Linked DNA regions of Homo sapiens: region 2 is linked to region 1. A link means that fine-mapping ties the variant in region 1 to the expression of a gene that starts in the linked region. Tissue or cell type: skeletal muscle. Region 1 holds a variant in brackets; the other region holds the start of a gene. All regions are shown on one strand. Distances are between the middles of the regions.

What was found. PIP is the estimated chance that this variant, and not a neighbour inherited with it, causes the effect.
Region 2: CCDC125 starts here. The variant in region 1 is fine-mapped to the expression of CCDC125 in skeletal muscle (GTEx, PIP above 0.99).

The regions. Positions count from the first base shown.
Region 1 is chr5:69,282,890-69,288,708 of GRCh38, reverse strand. It overlaps CCDC125 (coiled-coil domain containing 125), which reads left to right. Exons shown (of 12, transcript NM_176816.5): 11 at 3,242-3,372; 12 at 5,675-5,819. Among named protein-coding and RNA genes, the nearest start is that of CCDC125, 47 kb to the left of the region's middle. The variant T/C (reference allele first, on the strand shown) is at 2,786.
Region 2 is chr5:69,330,774-69,335,773 of GRCh38, reverse strand. It overlaps CCDC125 (coiled-coil domain containing 125), which reads left to right and starts at 2,973. Exons shown (of 12, transcript NM_176816.5): 1 at 2,973-3,125. It also overlaps the pseudogene CHCHD2P2.

The DNA.
Region 1 (5,819 bases):
GACTGACTGGCTGTATGTACATTGGGACTCCCATGACGCCCTCCTCAGGCTCCATTGATTTGCTAGGATGCCTCACAGAACTCCGGGAAACACTTCCGTTTACCAGTTTATTATAAAGGATCTTACAAAGGATGCAGATGAACAGCCAGATAAAGAGATGGACAGGGCAAGGCACGTGGGAAGGGATGCTCTCTTTGGCGTACCACCCCTCAGGAACCTCACATGCTCAGCTATCTGGAAGCTCCCCAGACCCTTTTGGGTTTTTATGGAGGCTTCATTACATGGACACGGTACATCACTGGCCATTGGTGATTACATCATTGGCCATTGGTAATCAACTCAACCTTCAGCCCCTCTCGCTTCCCTGGAGTTTGGGGGCTAGGGCTGAAAGTTCCAGCTTTCTAATCACAAGATTGGTTCCCCTGGCAACCAGCCCCCATCCTGAGGCTATCCAGGAGCCCATCAAGAGCCTCATTAGAACAAAAGATGCTTCTATTACCCAGGAAATTCCAAGGGATTTAGGGGCTCTGTGTCAGATGCTCCTAGCACTGAGGAAATTACAGTCTTAAGAATTGTGTGTTAGGAACTGGGGTCAAAGACCAACTATGAGAAAAGATTCACCTAACACCCCTATCTACTAGGATTTTAGGAGCTCTATGTCAGGAACTGAGGGCAAAGACCAAATATATATTTCTTATATTACAATATCACATTCAGCTATTGACAAATCTAAGGAAGATTCCCACAAAAAATGCAATTCAGAGGGGTATAGCTCCCAATCTCTGAGTTCCAGTAAGGCACTGAGAGAGACTGAAGGCAGAATTTTAAATAATTGATATAGGCAGGGCACAGTGGCTCATGCCTGTAATCCCAGCGCTTTGGGAGGCTGAGGCAGGAGGATTGCTTGAGCTCAGGAGTTTGAGACCAGGCTGGGCAACATAGGGAGACCCTGTCTCTATTAAAAAAAAAAAAATAGCCAAGTGTGGTGGTAGATACCTGTGGTCTCAGCTACTAGGGAGGCTGAAGTGGGAGGATCGCTTGAGCCTGGGAGGCTGAGGCTGCAGTGAGTCATGATCCCACCACTGCAGTCCAGCCTGGGTGATGGAGCAAGACCCTGTCTCAAAAAAAAAAAACCACCAAAAACTGATGGCCGGGTGCAGTGGCACGCCTGTAATCTCAGGACTTTGGGAGGCTGAGGTGGGTGGATCACTTGAGGTCGGGAATTTGAGACCAGCCTGACCAACATGGAGAAACCCTGTCTCTACTAAAAATACAAAATTGGCTGGGTGTGGTGGCACAAGCCTGTAATCCCAGCTACTCGGGAGGCTGAGGCAGGAGAAATGTTTGAACCCGGGAGGCAGAGGTTGTGGTGAGCCAAGATTGCGCTGTTGCACTCCAGCCTGGGCGACAAAAGCGAGACTCCATCTCAAAAAAAAAAAAAAAAATTGATTAATCTCGCACAGCTTTTATAAATCTATACAAGTTTGAGTAGTTCTTTCTCAGTTTCTCAGTGACAAGACTTTAATTCATTTTATTAGTATATTTCAGTAATCTTAAGAGGTACAGGGTGATACAGATTATTTTATGTTTAGTAACACTTAATATCAACTTTCTTTTTGATATGGCAGTTTAGACAAGTTTCCGGAAGTAGTTTATAGGCATACTTCTTTCTTTCTTTGTATTTTTGCTTTTGGGTTTTTTTTTTTTTTTTTTTATCTTAAACTCCTGGGCTTAAGCAATCCTCCAGACTACCAGCTTGAGCCATCACACCAAGCTATTTCTTTTTTTAGACTGAAAATAGGGACACAGATTCATCTACTCATCAAAGTGTCAGTTTCTCTGACTTCTGTTTGCCACAGCTCCTCGTGGAAGGGGTCAGGGCCGCCCTCGTCACTGTGGTCTGTCAGGATTGGTGGGAAGGGGATCTCCCCTCATCTGCTCTCAGTTTCCCACTAAACCACTTTTGGAGAATATTCCAAAAACATTCTTGAAATTTTCCTTGTACAATCTGAGATTTTATAACTTCTGCAAATTACTTTCCTTCAATGGATGAAGAAGGACATCAATGATGTCAGCACGTGAAATATTAAATATTATGCTAATACCTGAGCAGGGCCTTTGACAATTGTGGTATTTTTTGTTGTTGTCGTGATGGTGGTAAAATATATCTAAAGTTGGCCGGGCGCGGTGGCTCACGCCTGTAATCCCAGCATTTTGGGAGGCCAAGAGGGGGCGAATCATGAGGTCAGGAGATCGAGACCATCCTGGCTAACACAGTGAAACCCCATCTCTACTAAAAATACAAAAAAATTAGCCGGACGTGGTGGCGGGCGCCTGTAGTCCCAGCTACTCGGGAGGCTGAGGCAGGAGAATGGCGCGAACCCGGGAGGCGGAGCTTGCAGTGAGCCGAGATTGCGCCACTGCACTCCAGCCTGGGTGACAGAACAAGACTCCATCTAAAAAAAAAAAAAAATTATATATATATATATATATATATATATATATATATATATATATATAGTTTACCATTTGAACTGTTTTTAAGTGGTATTAAGTATATTCACATTGTAATGTAACCTTCATCACCATCCAGCTCCAGAACATTTTCATCTTTCTTTACAGAGACCCTGTCCCATGAAACAGTAACTCCTCACTTCCCCTTCTCCAGCCCGTGTGATTTATTATTTAATGGCACAGTTCCCTGAGAAGAAGGTAATGCTATTCTCATTTTAGAGATGAGGAAATCAAGCTGAGAAAAGTCACCCGAGGTCATACAGTTAGTAAG[T/C]GGCTGAATGAGGATTCAAGTCCAGGTCTTTGCTGTTCGGAAGCAGAGTTTGCATGGCTCAGAGGCCCCCTGTGGCCTGCAGACATGTTTTGTTAGGTTGGCTTAGTGTAGTCAAACAATAAGACTAGTGGCTGACATTTAGAATTGGAAGATGTCATGACAGATCTGCATTTCTGGCTGCTCTTGAAGACTGTGATGATCCAGTGACATGGACTGTGTTCTTGTGTGGCCTGTGTGTCAGCTGGCACAGAGGGGTGGCTGTGCCGCATGGCAGGGCGGCACTCTTGCTGCCTCTCACCTGCATTGCTCCTGGCTCTGAAGGCTGTGCTCTGCTCACTACATTCCACTGTGTGCTCCTGGACTCACTTGTCCTAGAGATCAAGTTACCTCTTTTGCTGGAAGTATATCAGTGAGGATATTTTAATGTCTCAGCTGGATTCTCATGTTCAATTTTAGGATTTCCATCACCAAGGAGTAAGAAGACCTTCGGGCAGAGACTGTTGGGTATGCTCCCTTCAGAAAACAGTTCTAAGAGGATGGAAGACCAGGACAGTCCTCAAGAGGTCCTTAAGATGCTCATAGATTTGGTTAGTGTCTTTGCTTTTTTTTGCAGGTTATGGTTAAGCCAAGCTTGTCCAACCCACGGTCCGTGGGGAGCATGCAGCCCAGAACAGCTTTGAATGTGGCCCAACACAAATTCGTAAACTTTCTTAAAACATTATGAGATCTTTTTGATATATATATATATTTTTTTAGTTCATCAGCTATCATTAGTGTTAGTGTATTTTTTTGTTTTGTTTGTTTTTTGGTTTTTTTGTTTGTTTGGTTTTTGAGACAGAGTCTCTGTCACCCAGGCTGGAGTGCAGCGGCGCGATCTCGGCTCACTGCAACCTCCACCTCCCGGGTTCAAGCAATTCTCCTGCCTCAGCCTCTAGAGTAGCTGGGACTGCAGGCGCCCACCACCACGCCTGGCTAATTTTGTGTGTGCGTTTTTAGTAGAGACAGGATTTCACCATGTTGGCCAGGCTGGTCTCAAACTCCTGACCTCAAGTGATCTGCCCACCTCGGCATCCCAAAGTGCTGGGATTACAGGCGTGACCCACCATGCCCAGCCAGTGTTAGTGTATTTTATGTGTGGCCCAAGACAATTCTTCTTCTTCCAGTGTGGCCCAGGGAAGCCAAAAGATTGGACACCCCTAGGTTAAGCTAATCTATTTGCTTCCTGTTAATTCAACTCTTTATCTCTCTAGACTTGCACTTGCCTTCTATGTCCTTTTCCCAGTTGGAGTACCAGACTCTACCTTCATGATCTTTATCTCCCTCAGCTCATCTTTTCTCGTCATTCATATTCTTTCTGTGCAGGTTTAAAGGCTCCATCTTGGAAAACAGGGGGCTCCTGTAGTTAACTCCAGCCAGCTTTGCCATCTACATTTATATATATACAGTTTGTGACAAGTCTGCCTGTTTATTGAGGCATTTTTAAAGTGTTCAAGGCATTTCCTCACACATTATATCCTTTACAGTCCTGCTACCCACATTCCACATGGAATGACTAAACTAAGACACTGAGACTCAGGTTATATGAACATACTTATCTCTAGACTGTTATATATTTGCATACAAATATATGAAAGCAATTTTATATACAAATAACTTCAACATTATTTTATAAATATGCACGTTGATATATTTTTTATATGTTGATATTATATACCTATATATACACACTTCATATAGATCTATATTTTCCCTTCATTTCCAGATGACTTGCAAAATTTTCAATGCTGTCTTCTGTTTTTTTTTTTAAAAAATTATTTTTAAAAAATAATCGTCGGGGCTGGGCACAGTGGCTCATGCCTGTAATCCCAGCACTTTGGGAAGCCGAGGCGGGTGGATCATGAGGTCAGGAGATCGAGACCATCCTGACTAACACGGTGAAACTGTCTCTACTAAAAATACAAAAAATTAGCCAGGTGTGGTGGCTGGCACCTGTAGTCCCTAGCTACATGGGAGGCTGAGACAGGAGAATGGTGTGAACCCAGGAGAGCGGAGCTTGCAGTGAGCCAAGATCATGCAACTGCACTCCAACCTGGGTGACAGAGCGAGACTCTGTCTCAAAAAAAAAAAAAAATTGTCAGCCTGGCATGGTGGCACACATCTGTAATTCCAGCACTTTGGGAGGCCGAGGCGAGTGGATCACTTGAGGCCAGGAGTTCGAGACCAGCCTACAAAAATTAGCAAGGTGTGGTGGTGCACGCCTATAGTCCCAGCTACTCTACTCGGGAGGGTGAGGCCCAAGAATCACTTGAGCCTGGGAGGCAGAGGCTGCAGTGAGCCAAGATGGCATCACTGCATTCCAGCCTGGGCAACAGAGCCAGACCCTGTCTTAAAAAAAAAAAGAATTGGCCGGGCACGGTGGCTCACGCCTGTAATCCCAGCACTTTGGGAGGCCAAGGTGGGCTGATCACAAGGTCAGGAGATTCAGACCATCCTGGCAAACACAGTGAAACCCCGTCTCTACTAAAAAATGCAAAAAATTAGCTGGGTGTGGTGGCGGGCACCTGTGGTCCCAGCTACTTGGGAGGCTGAGGCAGGAGAATAGTGTGAACCTGGGAGGCAGAGCTTGCAGTGAGTGGAGATAGTGCCACTGCACTCCAGCCTGGGTGACAGAGCCAGACTCCGTCTCAAAAAAAAAAAAAAAAAGATTCATGAATAACATGTAGTATAATGTTTGGGGATCAGGTGATACCTAATTTATTCATACTGATGGACAGATCAGTATGAATATTAGGGTTGAATAACTTGATAAAATAGTACAATACTCCTTTCTCTGAATATATTCTGTGATTTATTGACTAACTTGTACATGTTTAATTTCTGTGCATGCAGCTTAATGATAAAGAAGAAGCTTTGGCTCATCAAAGAAAAGTTAGCTACATGCTTGCTCGGGCATTGGAAGACAAAGACACTGCTTCAAACGAGAATAAAGAAAAAAATCCTATAAAAGAGAATTTCCCTTTCAACAACCCCTGGC
Region 2 (5,000 bases), 47 kb before region 1:
CTGTTTCTTGCTCTAGGCTATTGCTCCATTTTTTTGTAGGTCATCTCCTGCCACTTCTTCTCTAGGGTAATGCTGTTTGCAATACACAGTTCCTTGTCTTGGTTTCCCAAGCATCTTAGTTCTGAAAGTGAGATATGGGCTTGTCTGGGACGTGGGGGACAAAGATCAGGTGCCTCCACAAGTGACTCTCCTCAGCTCCCAGCCAGCTGACAACTGCATGGACTGATGGTCTCTTTCTTTCCTTATCTGCATGCTGGTTTCCAGGACTTTGCGCACCCTGAAGGAGCCTCATATGACCCAGTAGTTTCATTCCTAGGCAGCTTTTATATCTTTTATCATTTTTCTAAGCTTAAGACACCTTTGGTCAGCCACGGTGGCTCACGCCTGTAATCCCGGCACTTTGGGAGGCCAAGGCGGGCGAATCACCTGAGGTCAGGAGTTCGAGACCAGCCTGACCAACATGGAGAAACCCCCTGTCTACTAAAAATACAAAATTAGCTGAGCGTGGTGGTGCAGACCTGTAATCTCAGCTACTCCAGAGGCTAAGGCAGGAGAATCACTTGAACCCGGGAGGCAGAGGTTGCAGTGAGCTGAGATCTCGCCACTGCACTGCAGCCTGGCAACAAGAGAAAAACTCTGTCTTTAAAAAAAAAAAAAAAGACTCCTTTTCTTTCCTCATTAATTTGGCGGCCACGTCTGTCCGGAACTTGTGGGACGTCCTCGTCTTCATCAGGTTGGCAGATACTCCAGCATGGCCTGCCGGCCGCCGAGGCCACCATCCACAGGCTCAAGGGCTCCGTGGTCGCTCCTTCGTGCTCCCGCCTCCAGAGGGAGCCAGACAGTGCATCCTTGCAGTGGACGCCGCCCGCCCGCAAAAGCCTGTTTTTCAATGACTGCCTCTACCTCTGAACCTCAGCTTAGATTTCTCTCTCTCTCTCTCTCCCTCCCTCTCCCTCTCTCTCTCTCTCTCTCTCTCTCTCCCACCCCCACCTCCTCTTTTTAAGACAAAGTCTTGCTCTGTCACCCAGGCTGGAGTGCAGTGGCGCGATCTCGGCTCACGGCAAACTCCGCTTGCCGGGTTCAAGAGATTCTCCTGCCTCAGCCAAGCAGCTGGGAATACAGGCACCTGCCACCACGACCGGCTAATTTTTTTTTTGGAAGAAAATGACTTTATTCTAATTAACTCACAAAGAATAAAATCATAACAGCTAGTTTAAGGAGGCCACACAAACATTTGCCCTGTCACAGATTCTACAGAGTAGGAACACCCCCCTTCCATTTCAATTCTGAAGCAAGGAAGCTAGGAATGACAGGAGAGGTTTAACTCATGGTTACACTTTATACCCTCACTATCAATTCTATTTTTATACTAAATTAACTTAGTTATGAGAGCTGATTTTCCATCTCTCCAGGTTGAACTTCTTGATTAGGCCAATCCGTTTGCAAGTCGGCACTGTTTCAGCACCTCATTGAAACCCTCACAGAGCTTGATGTCACCCTGGTTCTGGGCACACTCCAGAAACTGATCTCATAGAAGCAAGGCTGCTGCTGCTGTGCCGGCTGGGTTCCCTGAGGCTCCTGGTAAGTGATGTCAGGCCTCGCAGGCTCAGCATTACTTCCTCCCCTGAAAGCCCCAGTAATGGCGTGACCCACAGCAGAGCCCACAGCCACGCCAGCTGCAGTGGTTGCCATCTGGGCCATCAGACCTGGCTGCCGGGGCGCAGCAGCAGAAGAGCCAACTACAGATGGGGGTGCCGCTGCTGGTGGCTGAACGACTGGTACTGGCCTGGGTGCAGCTCTCATCTGAGGGGGCCTGGCTGGCCGGAGGGGCCATGCGGGAGGTGCGGCTTCGGCTTCCACGCGGCATCCTAGGTACGCGACGGCTCGGCCTCCGGACGTGTGACGACCGGCTAAATTTTGTATTTTAGTGGAGATGGGGTTTCACCATGTTGGCCAGGCTGGTCTCAAACTTCTGACCTCAGGTGATCCACCCACCTTGGCCTCCCAAAGTGCTGGGTTAACAGGCGTGAGCCACCGCACCTGGCCCGATCTACCCTTCTCTTACAGGATTCCTAGAGACTTAATATTTTGGTTTTGGTTTGTTTCTTTTTTGAGACAGGGTCTCCACTCCGTCGCCCAGGCTGGAGTGCAGTGGTCACTGTAGCCTGGATCTCCCAGGCTCACGGGATCCTCCCACCTGACGGCCTCCCGGCCTCCTGAGTAGCTGGGACTACAGGTACGCACCACCACACCCGCTACTTTTTAATTATTTTTTTTTTTTGAGACGGAGACTCGTTCTGTTGCCCAGGCTGGAGTGCAGTGGCACGATCTTGGCTCACTGCAAGCTCCGCCTCCCGGGTTCACGCCATTCTGCCTCAGCCTCCTGCGCAGCTGGGACTACAGGCACCCGCCACCACGCCCGGCTAATTTCTTGTATTTTTAGTAGAGAAGGGTTTTCACTGTGTTAGCCAGGATGGTCTCAATCTCCTGACCTCGTGATCCACCCGCCTCGGCCACCTAAAGTGCTGGGATTACAGGCGTGAGCCACCGCGCCCAGCCCTACTTTTTAAATTTTTTGTAGAGCGGGGTCTCACTATGTTGGCCATGCTGGTCTCGAATTCCTGGCCTCAAGCGATCCTCCCGCCTTGGCCTCCCAAAAGCTGGGATTACAGGTGTGAAACCCCGCGCCGGTCTGAACCTCAATGTTTGAACCACCAAATTTTACCTGTATTGACACAGGCCCCGTCTTGTTGTTTTTCTAAATCTCATGTCATTGTTTGCATATTGGTTACCCGTGGTTGGCTTTGGAGCTGAAGGTGGACAGAGCTAACATCAGGTTGCACACAGGAACACAGTGAGGTCGCGAAAAAGTAGCGCGAGCTGCCTCCATGGCCCAGGGCGACCTCACCGGCGTTTCCTGTCTGGGACTGCGCCCACGCGGTCACGTGGTGGCCCGGAGGACGCGCGGCGGCAGCGGCGCACGCGCACGGAGAGGAGGCTACTTGCCAGGTGAGCGAGCTGAGTGGGGCGCCGGGGCGGTAGGAGGGTGCTGTTCGCTGAGCTGGAGTCCGGGCTCCGGTCCCCGCCACGGACCTTGAGAGGGTACCCGGGGTCAGACCTGGCAGGTGGGAACCGGGAGTGGGGAGGACCCAGGGCAGGGGCGGGATGCGCAGATTCGTGGAAACTCTGCAGGTTGTGGACAAACTGCCCAAATCCTTTTCCCTGAATGCCAGTTTAATGGCCTCGTCTGATAAGAAAAAAATAAGAAATAGATTTCAGAGACCCTATTTCTCTCTCTGCCTCTCCACCTGCTTTACTTTTTTTCTCTTCTGTTAATTTTGAGCCTTATAAAACTATAGCGCCAGTATCCTGGTTTGGATCCTGAAACAGAAAAAGACATTAGTGGAAAAAATAATAAAGGCTGTGGTTTAGTTAATAGCACGTACCCATGTTAATTTCTTAATTTCGACAAATTGTACACAAATGTTGACATTAGAGGAATTTGGGTAAAAGGTACACAGGAATTCTTAGTACTATCTTTGCAATTTACTGTACATCTAAAATTATTCTAAAATGAAAAGTTAAGAAACAAAATCCTAAAGCAAAGTGCAGCAGGCCATTGTTCACCAGGGAGGGCTCAAGTTAGTTCCTCTTTGTCATGGAGTTAGGCATGTTTGACCAACTTGTTTGCTAAGGCAGAGTTGTCAGGCTACTGAATGTAGATTCTTCTGTCCAAAGGTTTCCGGGCAGGAATCGGTTTTCTCTTTCGATTCTGTCAAATATCTTTGGAACACATGTTGTGCATAAGCAAACGAGACACACAAAGTCTCTGCATAAGGGAATATACAGTCAGTCTAGGTCAGGTAGGAAGTAAGCACTATTAAAAAGATTCAGTAAAACCTCCCAGAACTGGGAAGACTCAGATGTGGAAGAAATCACATCTGGTCCAAGGGAGTCAGGAAGGCTACTGGAGGGAGTGCTGTCCTGAACTGAGGGGGCTCTGAGAAGAAACAGCATTCCTGGGGTGAAGAATGGCACCAATAGAGGCTTGCAGGTGACCAAGCTGAGCTGAGGGAGGAGCCCTGGGAGCAAGTGCAGTTCCTCTTACGTGGAAGCGCAGAGTACATCCAGGGAGTACTGCCAGATGAAACTGGAGGTGAAAACTGTAGCTTTGTTGTAGAAAACAGGGTGACACTTCAGTTGGATACATTATTTTTATTTTTATTTTTTTGAAACGGAGTTTCGGCTGGGCGCAGTGGCTCACGCCTGTAATTCCAGCACTTTGGGAGACCGGTGAGCAGATCTCCTGAGGTCTGGAGGTCTAGACCAGCCTGGCCAACATGGTGAAACCCCGTCTCTACAAAAATACAAATATTAGCCGGGCATGGTGGTGGGCGCCTGTAATCTCCGCTACTGGGGAGGCTGAGGCAGGAGAATCGCTTGAACCCAGGAGGTCTAGGTTGCAGTGAGCCGAGATCGCACCATTGCACTCCAGCGTGGGTGACAGACAATAGTGCTGTCTCAGCTCACTGGAACCTCCACCTCCCAAGTTCAAGCGATTCTCCTGCTTAGCCTCCCAAGTAGTTGGGATTAAAGGCGCCCGCCACCATACCTGGCTAATTTTTGTATTTTTAGTAGAGACGGGGTTTCACCATGTTGGCCAGGCTGGTCACAAACTCCTGACCTCAGGTGATCTGCCCGCCTCAGCCTCCCAAAGTGCTCGGATTACATGTGTGAGCCACTGTGCCCAGCCTACATTTTTTTTAAAAAGGAAAACAGGGTGACATTGACTACAATTATACATGCCATGGGAGCCATGGAATGTTTTACAGCAAGAGAGAGACATCATTCGGTTTGCACTTGGATATTATTGACTTGGCAGCAGTATGTAGGTTGGCTTGAAGTAGACCAATTAGGAAATTATCAGGCTAGCCTTGGGGAATTAAAGAGACGTTCCACCAGGGCAGTGAAATTAATGTGCAAAGAATGACATAGTTTGG